Linked DNA regions of Homo sapiens: region 2 is linked to region 1. A link means that fine-mapping ties the variant in region 1 to the expression of a gene that starts in the linked region. Tissue or cell type: whole blood. Region 1 holds a variant in brackets; the other region holds the start of a gene. Each region is shown on its reference strand, or each on the opposite one.

Region 1 (5,378 bases):
ATGACTACAATCTAGCTATTGATTTTAGTATTCACATCATCTGTGTAATCTTCAGATTATCCCAGCATATGATTTTATCTAGAAGATAAATGTCTAGAGAATGTGATTTATTTAACAAATAATATACTTACAAAAATGTCCATTATTATGTAAAGGATAATGATGCCACAAATGCAATCATCTCAAGCTATACTTTGGTGATCAGAACAAAGATGCTAAGATGAAAAATCAGAGACTCACTTGGTAAATATGGTTACAGATATACTATTTTATACTTGTTAAGACAAATCAGGAAAACTTATCTAGCCCACCTACTGGATGGTAACATGTATGAGGCTCTTTTCTGACTTAATTTTTGTTTGCTAACTCTATCATCAAGCATGAGAAAAGCCATAAAGAGAGAAATAATAATCCCTTCCATGTGCTTCACATGCAAGATATTTTATTTCCCTTGCACAACATACTTAGTTGACCTTATTATAGTCTAAAGAATCAAAATATCATATCAGAAGGCCAAATGCCTGTTTTGATTTATTGTTGCCAACACATGCCCAGTCTTGGTTACCAGTTGTCTGAAATAAATTACCACTTCTGTCAGTGAAACCCTTTTCATGTTTAAAAAAACAAAAAGATTAAATATAAGGTCTAGTAATAGGAAATATAGACAAAGAAAACGAGAGAAGGGGGAGAATTAAAAACAGCAATGGGGAGAAAAAGACCAGAAGAATGCTAAACAGAATGAGCAATTAGAAATCCTCTGTTATTATAGGCAACTGGAAATTAAACCAAGTGTATAATGCACCTAATGAAGTGTATGGTCTGATGTTTAAATAGGCAATTGCCACTTATCATGACATTAAAACAAGAAATGAAATGGAGAAAAGTAAGTCTAACTTAAGGATCCAGAAAGATCAGATTAGATGATTGTTTAGCAAAGCCTGCACAAATAAGAGAGATCACTGCCAAATGGTGACCGTCCAGAGGAGATGCTATCCTACCCCTCTATACCAAAACTCTAATGTTTCTCTAAAATTTCTTGAAGTTCCTTCCATCCTATCTCTACACTTTCATCTCCTAATCTCCACAGTCAGACTGTTACATTTTTAGCAACATACTGAGGCAGGCTCACCAGGCAGCACTCTCAGTTTTCCTGGTCCGTAAGCCGAGTTTCTCTCACTCTTCAATGAAAACTTAAAATAAATCAGTCGCACTGAATCTAAAGTATCTTAAAGAAAAAGACTAACTTTGAGACAGCAACTGGGTGGCTAGAGAGTACATGACAACTCACTTGTCAATGTTTATACTGTTTCTTTGGAATTCTGTACTATGAATATATATTGTTCCGTTTTTAAAATAAACTTTTAAAATAATAGATTGAAACTCAAGATTTACTTCCTCTTCCTCCAGAGTCTTCTCTAGACAATAATATCACAAAAGAACAAATCCAACCCTTACAATAACTGCCTTGACTCACCTGTATACTAAGACAAAGGTGTGCTTCTTTCATTTGAACTATTACTTTGATTTAGAACTGTTAACACAACTATGTGTAACACTTCTCCTGTCAAAAAATTGGCATTTCTCTTAGGAAATACTGACAGAAAGAGAACAATGGCCTTTAGCTACCATTTCAGAAAAATTAGAGTTTCCAAGAAAAAAATTGTATTTTTTTAAAGAGGCAGGGTCTCACTCTGTTGCCCAGGCTGGAATGCAGTCGCACTGATCACAGCTCACTGTAATCTCAAACTCCTGGACTCAAGTGATCCTTCCACCTCAGCCTCCTGAGTAGCCAGGACTACAGGCTTGTACCACCACACCCAGTCAAGTTTCTTAATTAAATTTTTAGAGATGGGGCTGGCTATATTGCCCAGGCTGGTCTTGAACTCCTGGTCTCAAATAATCCTCCCAGTTTGGCCTCCCAAAGTGCTGGGATTACAGATGTGAGTCACCATACCCAGCCAAAAAGGGGGGTTTCTAGAGAAAGTTTCGCTTTAAAAATGAATTTTTAAATAGGATTTCCTTGGGGTTTGTTTGGTTGGTTGGTTTTAAGAGACAGGGTCTTGCCCGTCACCCAGGCTACAGTGTAGTGGCATAATCATATAGTTCACTGTAATCTTGAACTAGCAGATGGGACCACAGTGCATGCCACCATGCCTGGCTAATTTTTTTTTTTGGTAGAGACAGGGGTCTCACTATGTTGTCCAGGCTGGTCTCAAATTCCTGGCCTCATGCAGTCCTCCCATCTTGGCCTCCTAAGGTGCTGAGATTACAGGTGTGAGCCACCATAAGGTACCTGGCCTACAAATAGGGTTTCTTAAGAGAGCTTCCTCAGCACAAGTTGATTTATAAAAAGTTGGCATCCAGGTGACAAAGGGACACATTTGCAGCATTAAAAAAATAAATCCTTGGCCGAGCACGGTGGTTCACGCCTGTAATCCCAGCACTTTGGGAGGCTGAAACAGGTGGATCACTTGAGGCCAGAAGCTTGGGATCAGCCTGGCCAACATGGTGAAACCCTGTCTCTAATTAAAATACCAAAAATTAGCCAGGCATGGTGGTGCATACCTGTAATCCCAGCTACTCGGGAGGCTGAGGCACGAGAATCACTTGAACATGCGAGGCAGAGGTTGCGGTAAGCCAAGATCACACCATTGCACTCTAGCCTGGACAACAGAATGAGACTCTGTCTCCAAAAAGATAAAAGTAAAATAAAAAACTAAAAAAAATCCTTTATTCATCTTGCCTCCCAATTATGGTAAATTCTATTCTTGGGGAGACTGAAACTAAACATTCCCCACCCCTCACATCCCCTCAAAGAGCTAACCCAATTATGTATACTTTACAGAGATAGATATTAAACACAAACATATATATAAAAGCAGCACATGTAGATGTGTAAAATCATACTCAATCCTAGACAAATCTTTCTCCGCCTTAATTACAGACTTCTCTTCAATATGATATTTCCTTATGGACCTGTGGAATCTGCTGGTTGTTTTTGTTTTTTTTTTAAATAGAAACAGGGTCTCACTATGTTGCCCAGGCTTCTCTCAAACTCCTGGCCTCAGGCAATCTTCCTGCCTTGGCCTCCCAAAGTGCTAATATTACAGGTGTGAACCACCATACCCAGCCTGAATTTTTAATGATAAGCAATTTGTATTTTTACTTACATTATACTAATAGAATGAGTTTTACAGAGATAAAAGACTGGAATAGCTAAAATGTATTGAATATTTACTTTGTGCTATTAATCCTCATAACAACTCTGAAGTAGCTGCTACTAAAAGCCACCTATTACAGATAACAAAACTGACTTAGAGAAGTTCAGTGACTTGCTTAGGGTCAACACAGCCAGAAAGGGATTCCTGCTTGAATCTGAACTCAAGGTCTGCATCTGATTCCAG[T/C]GTCTGAGTACTAATACTTGGTCTCCAGCATTTATAGAGCTTCCAAGACTTGTGAACTTCAACCAAGGGAAGGGAAAGAAGATTCAGAGTAGGGGAGGATAATATAATCCAAACATTATTTCCAGCAAAGGTGACATGTAGATTTATATACAAGGAGAAAAATGTATTCTACTTTATACATTTCAGAGATAATCATATCCTACAGTACTTAGGGAGGGAAAGATTTACTACCTAGCTATAAAATATGATTTATGATCTATACCTGTCTTATATGCAGCAGTTGAGGATAATAAATTTGACCTCATTTTGTTAAAAAAGGAGTGAGCTGGTACAGTAGGTATGGTTAGAATAAAAATGACCCTGTAAAAAAAAGGACTCTCAAAGGAAATCTAGATATAAACTGGGAGTGGAATATCACACACATAAGCTCACTTATGAGGAATCTCTCACCCATTTCCCTGTCCCTTAAAATGATTTTCACCTTGCACTCTAATTTCACTCATTTTCGTGGCCTTGGAACCTTAGAAACTTACCACTTTCCAGTTCAGTGACTTCTTCCTGTTAAGTAAATTACTATTTACAGGACTTTGATTTCCAGCAATGACCTTCAAGGTCACACACTATGAACAGATTTATGCTTCAGTTTTTCTGCTCAATTTACAATTATTTTGGCTGGTATCCCTGAAGACTTGAATAAAGTGAAAGAAGTAGAGTAACTGACCAAAACTATTATGAGGAAATACACAGGTGGTTTACATATTTTTGTTCTCTTCTAAATTAGCAGTGTTAGAATATTGCTATCTCCTTTACAGAATGACCTCAAATGACATGTGAGGCATAGGACAACATATTTGTTCTGAGAGTTTCAGTCATTATTATCTCCTTAAGGAGACAATGACTGCAGTACCAGTCAAACAAGTAAAACTTAGGGCTTATACTTTAATCCAAAACACTGTCTAGAATGCCAACTGTTAATATGCCTGCTACATTACAATCTAGAATATTCCATTTTTTCCCCATCTTCTTCCTTAGAATGAGAGGTAAAACTACCTAGTGAGCCAACACATCTCATTATGAAAAGAAAGTCTGATTACATAGTAACAAGGTTTACAAAAAATAAAATTCATTACTTAAGTGGTTTAAGATATGATTTAACAAAATTCAAGTACTCTCAAAGCCAAAACACTACAAATAAATATCGATAAACAAATAAAAGGCATGCCTATAACCATCACAGTTATTTGGACCATGGCCCCTAAAATTCATTAAAGCAAGCTGCAACTTGAACAAAATAAAACACTTATTATCACACCACTTATGATCTCCCCATTTCTAAGAGTAAAGTATTCCCCAGCCAAATTACAGCCTTGAGGTCATCTTAAAGTGACAAATGAGCCTTGATATACTGGCAAACCACCAAAACAACACACAACAGATCCAGCTTTCAGGAAGTTGCTGTTGAGAACTACTTTAAACGTACACCCTTGAATAATTACCTTGTAAAAGTAGTAAGTAGTACTCTTAGATTTAGCTTCATTTGTGGGTAAGTTGCCCTCAGAGCTTTAAAAAATTTAATCTTTAAAATTCTTCATCCTAAAAGTTTTAATCTTAACCTTAAAATTTTAATCTTATAAAATTAAAAAGTAAATTTTGCCACTGAAATACTAACCCTTCTAAAATTATTAATATCCGGCACTACAATCACTGTACAATATAGAATATATGTTTCTGCTGGGCATGGTGGCTCACTCACGCCTGTAATCCCAGCACTTTGGGAGGCTGAGGCAGGCGGATCACTTGAGGTCAGGAATTCAAGACCAGCATGGCCAACATGGTGAAACCCTGTCTCTACTAAAAATACAAAACTTAGCCAGGCATGATGGCATGTGCCTGTACTCTCAGCTACTCAGAAGGCTGAAGTGGGAGAATTATTTGAGCCCAGGAGATGGAGGTTGCAGTAAGCCGAGATTGTGC
Region 2 (5,378 bases), not on the chromosome of region 1:
GTTACCCAGGCTTAGGTTGCCCAGGCTGGAGTACGGTGACGTGATCTTGGCTCGCTGCAACATCTGCCTCCCGGGTTCAAGCGATTCTCCTGCCTCAACCTCCCAAGTAGCTGGGATTACAGGCATGTGCCACCGCACCCGGCTAATTTCTGTATTTTTCGCAGAGACAGGTTTCACCATGTTGGCCAGGCTGGTCTCGAACTCTTGACTTCAGGTGAACCATCTGCCTCAGCCTCCCAAAGGCTGTTTTTGAGACTGGGTCTTGCTCACTGCAACTTCCACCCCTGGGGTTCAAGCAGTCCTCATGCCTCAGCCACCCCAGTATCTGAGATTACAGGCATGCACCACCATACCCGGCTAATTTTTGTATTTTTAGTAGAGACGGGGTTTCACCATGTTGGCCAGGCTGGTCTAGATTTCCTGACCTCAGGTGATCCACCCACCTCGGCCTCCCAAAGTGCTGGGATTACTGGCATAAGCCACCGCACCCAGCCCTCCAGGTGATTTCTTACATAGCTCTGCTATGCTACCACCTTTAACCTCCCTTCCTTCCTCAGTGATTTCCGTGAGACCCCACCACTACCTTTTGTGGCAGGCACTGTGCAAGCCTCAGAGCTATAACAATGAGAAAGAACAAAGCCTTCCCAGACTTTGGGGCTCTGCCAGTGTAGAGGGCAAGGCAGAGGTAAATCAAAGCAGTGGCTCACGCCTATAATCCCAACAGTTTGGGAGGCCAAAGTGGGAGGATTGCTTGAGCCCAGGAGTTCGAGACCAGCCTGGGCAACATGGGGAAACCCCATCTCTACAAAAAATATAAACATTGGGCCGGGCGCGATGGCTCACGCCTGTAATTTCAGCACTTTGGGAGGCCGAGGTGGGCAGATCACAAGGTCAGGAGATCGAGACTATCCTGGCTAACACGATGAAACGCTGACTCTACTAAAAATACAAAAAATTAGTCGGGCATGGTGGCAGGCGCCTGTAGTCCCAGCTACTTGGGAGGCTGAGGCAGGAGAATGGTGTGAACCTGGGAGGCGGAGCTTGCAGTGAGCCGAGATTGCGCCACTGCACTCTAGCCTGGGCTACACAGCGAGACTCTGTCTCAAAAAAAAAAAAAAAAATTAGCTGGACATGATGGTGCACCTGTGGGCCCAGCTACTCAGGAGGCTGAGGCAGGAGGATTGCGTGAGCCCAGGAGATAGACATGGTTGCAGTGATCTGAGATCGTGCCACTGCACTCCAGCCTGGGTTTCAAAGTAAGACCCTATCTCAAAAAAAAAAAGGCAGAGATATAAGTAAACTAGTTTGGGAAGCCGAGGCAGGCAGATCATGAGGTCAGGAGTTCCAGACCATCCTGGCCAACATGGTGAAACCCTGTCTCTACTAAAAATATACAAATTAGCTGGGCATGGTGGCGGGTGCCTGTAGTCCCAGCTACTCAGGAGGCTGAAGCAGGAGAATCGTTGGAACTTAGGAGGTGGATGTTGCAGTGAGCCGAGATCGCGCCACTGCACTCCAGCCTGGCGACAGAGAGAGACTCTGTCTCAAAAAAAAAAGAGAAAGAAAAAAAAAAAAAAGGCCAGGCACGATGGCTCATGCCTGTAATCTTTGGTACATCGAGGTGGGCGGATCACGTGAGGTCGGGAGTTTGAGACCAGCCTGACCAACATGAAGAAATCCCGTGTCTACTAAAAATACAAAGTTAGCCAGGCATGGTGGTGCATGCCTCTACTCCCAGCTACTTGGAAGGCTGAGGCAGGAGAATCGCTTGAACCTGGGAGGCAGCGGTTGCGGTGAGCTGAGATTGCGCCATTGCACTCCAGCTTGGGCAACAAGAGTGAAACTTCTTCTCAAAAAACAAAAACAAACAAACAAACAAAAAACCCAAGTAAACTAGTTATGAAGTGGACGTTCATCAACTTCATTGTGCCAAGACAGCTAAAGGGGGCACCTGGTCTTGCCTTGGGGAGGTTGGGAGGGCTTCCTGTAGGAGGTAACCTGGGAACTCCAACCTTAGAAGTGATCTCCAAAAAGCCAGTTACCACCTCCATGATAGCTACCTCCAAAAGCTGGTGTCTGACTCATCCATCCATCCATCCATCCATCCATCCATCCATCCATCCACCTACCCATTTATTGAGCTTCTATAGATGCCAGGCATGGTTCAAGGAGGTGCTGGGTACAAATCAGGTAAAAATCTCTGCCAGGATGAAGCAGAGTGAGGGATGGTCCCTCCAACCACAAGCAAAATAATGACAAGATAATTCTGGAAGGAGTAACTGCTAGGAAGGAAATAAAACTGAGTGAAGGAGGGAGAAGTGTCCCGGTTTCAAAACAAGATCCACAAAAACTTAGCTAATCAAGGATGCCACCTTCTTCCCGAGCCATGGGGACCTTATCACCCTCCAGCAGACAGTGCATAGAGGAGGAACTCCTCCCAGTGGCCCTGCTGGCTCAGTCGCCTGCGCAGCAGTAATCGAGCGCCTCCAGTATGCACCAGGCAACCTTCTAGACATTAAACTGTGTGGGGGATGGGAGGGAGGTTTCTGTATGCCTTTGGGCACGTCACTCCTCCTCAGGCCCTCAGGTTCACTTCTGTAACTAAGGCTTCAGGATGGGTCATTCAGCAACCCCAGAGCTGCCCTGCCCGTCAAGCTTGAACTCTTTAAGGAAATAACATTTAGAGTGGACTGTGCCCCCAGCAGCCCCCAAGGTGAGAGTGCATAGATGGGGGTGTTTATCCCCATTTCGCAGATGGTCAGGATGAAGCTCAGAGGAGAGGCAGGAGTCGCACAGGCTGCGCGATACTGACCCGTGTTGGGGTCCAGCCCAGGGTCCCCCGCCCCCGCCCCAGCCCCCGCCCCAGCCCCCGCCCCAGCCCCCGCCCCAGCCCCAGCAGCCGGGAGGCTTCGGTCCCTTTAAGAACGCCCCGCGGGGCCAAGCAGGAAGGGGGAGGTGCCAACGCCCGGGACGGACGTCTGCATGAGCCAACGGGTGCGGCAGTCGCGGCAGCGGCGGCCAATGGGCACGGCAGGGGCGGGGCCAAGCGGCCGAACCTGGTTCCCGAGGCGCGGCGGCCGCGGCTGGGGGCGGGGAGGGGGGCGCAGGACCCCAAGTGGGGGTCCCGGAGCCAGAGGCAAGTGTCCTGGGGTGCTGGGGGCGCCGTGCCGGCCGGGCCGCTGCCCTGGCCTAGGCTGGTCCGGGGGCTAGCGCGCCGGGGGCTGCGGCCGATGGGCGGGGCGAGGGGCCGCGGGGGTGGCGAGCCGGGGGGGCACGGGGGTCGGGGGTGCCCGAGGGGGCGCGGCCGGGCGGGGGTGGCCAGGGATGGGGGTCACTGGGGGCAAAGGGGATCCAGTGGGGGGGTCCCGATGGAGGCGTGCAGGGCCAGGGGCGCCCGAGGCGTGCGGGGGTCGGGTGCCCCAGACTGGTGGCGTCAGACAGGCGTGGGTCGTTGGGGGCCTGGGTCGCGGCTTGACTGAGGGCCCGGCCGGGGCTGTGGGGCGTCAGGAGAGCGTGGGGTGTTATGGGATCGGAAAGGGGGGGGCGTCTGGGGACACTGGAGTGTTTACGGCGAGACGGAGCGGCTGTGGGGGGAGCTGGCCCGTGCTGGGGGCGGTGGTGGTTGGGGTGGGGGGTGGGAGGGGAGGCCGAATTGTGCGGGCGCGGGGAATTATGGGGGTGGGGGCTGGGAGGGTCTCTCAAAGTGGGGCTCCGAGCCCGGGAGGAGCAGGCAGGTGAGGGTTAGGGAGGGGATGCGGCGGGCTGGTTTGATGGCTGTGCCACACTCTTCTGAGCTTGGGGCCTGGGGGACGGAGGGGTTGGTTATTGGTTCAGGAGGTCTGGGGCAAGGAAGAGGCTGTAGAATGTGGTGGGACCTCGACCACTCCTGGAAAGGAGGCTGCTTTGAGGGGGTGGGACCGAGGCCTGATGAGAGGAGGATGGTCTCCTGGGGAAGGATTTGGGCCAGGGTCCCTGATGTTGGGGTTGTGGGGGATAGTGTTAGATTCAGAGTGTGGAAGGAAAAAACGCTTGGGGTTTCTGGGTGATTACAGTTGGTGCTTTTGGGGAGGGTCTCCCCTTTGGAGAAGAGGCTGGAGGTGGGAGGCCCTGGTAAAAGATTCAATTTCCCCCAGTGGCCTTAGAGGCTCTAAAAATGGCTTCCCTAAGGCCTCGGAGGCTGTCCTCTCCACAAAAATCCCAGCACCCTTCGCTCAGCTTATAATCAGGCAAAGCCACAGGGCCTGAAGCCCCAGGTTCAAATCCTCCTTTGGCCTTTGGCTTTCTCTGTGACCTTGGGCAAATGCCTTTGCCCCTCTGGCCTGTTTCCTGTTCTGCAAAATGTTGAGGGGAATCTTCCCTACTTCCTGGAGTATTTGTAAACATTAAATAATAATTAGCTCTAATAATGGCTAACACTATTTGAGCCTGATGCCAAGGGCTTGATGCATGGGTTAATTTCTCCCAACAAGCTGGGGTTGTTGTTACACCCACTGTATAGATGAGGAAACTGAGGCCTGGAGCCCTTGAGTTACACAGAAAGTGATCGGCAGTGTGGGGAATCAGTACAGTGGAGACTTTGAGGGGCTGTGTAGGATTCTGACCCACATCTCTGCCCCCCACTTCCAGGGCCAATTCCTGTCCCCCCAGCAGCATGGCATCGTGTGCTGAACCCTCTGAGCCCTCTGCCCCACTGCCCGCCGGGGTCCCACCGCTCGAGGACTTCGAGGTACTGGATGGGGTTGAGGATGCAGAGGGTGAGGAGGAAGAGGAGGAGGAAGAGGAGGAAGAGGATGACCTGAGTGAGCTGCCACCGCTGGAGGACATGGGACAACCCCCGGCGGAGGAGGCTGAGCAGCCTGGGGCCCTGGCCCGAGAGTTCCTTGCTGCCATGGAGCCCGAGCCCGCCCCAGCCCCGGCCCCAGAAGAGTGGCTGGACATTCTGGGTAAGGAGCAAAGGTGGATCAGGGTGCCCTTGGCCCTGGCCCTCTCGTCCCCTGAGCCTCATTTCCCCATCTGTGCTGTGAGGGTTGGAAGTCACGTGGTCACCACCGTGATCACCAGCCAGAGGCAACTACTGGAGATGCTTCACATTGATGTACTCTATCCACTGACTCACACACATGCACAATGTGCTGTGTCCCCGTTTCCCAGATCTGCTAACAGTGGCTCAGAGAGGCTGAGTCACCTGCCCAGAGCCACACAGCCAGCACGCCAGGCGCTGGCAGCTCCTAACCCCATCAATGCATCTTTTTTTGGCATTTGTCTGACACATGCTTGGGCTCTGAAAAATGTGTCCTGAGTGCACGCCAGCCTGGGCAACACAGCGAGACCCCAACTTCCAAAACAAAAAATGTGTTCTGGGGTCAAGTGGATCAGAG

What was found. PIP is the estimated chance that this variant, and not a neighbour inherited with it, causes the effect.
Region 2: FKBP8 starts here. The variant in region 1 is fine-mapped to the expression of FKBP8 in whole blood (TOPMed, PIP 0.99).

Annotation. Positions count from the first base shown.
Region 1 is chr17:35,617,115-35,622,492 of GRCh38, reverse strand. All of the region lies in intron 5 of AP2B1 (adaptor related protein complex 2 subunit beta 1), which reads right to left. Among named protein-coding and RNA genes, the nearest start is that of AP2B1, 32 kb to the right of the region's middle. The variant T/C (reference allele first, on the strand shown) is at 3,405.
Region 2 is chr19:18,541,244-18,546,621 of GRCh38, reverse strand. FKBP8 (FKBP prolyl isomerase 8) reads left to right here and starts at 3,049. Exons shown (of 9, transcript NM_012181.5): 1 at 3,049-3,136; 2 at 4,627-4,943. The coding sequence starts at 4,652. RefSeq lists a silencer at 2,804-3,233 and an enhancer at 4,796-5,296.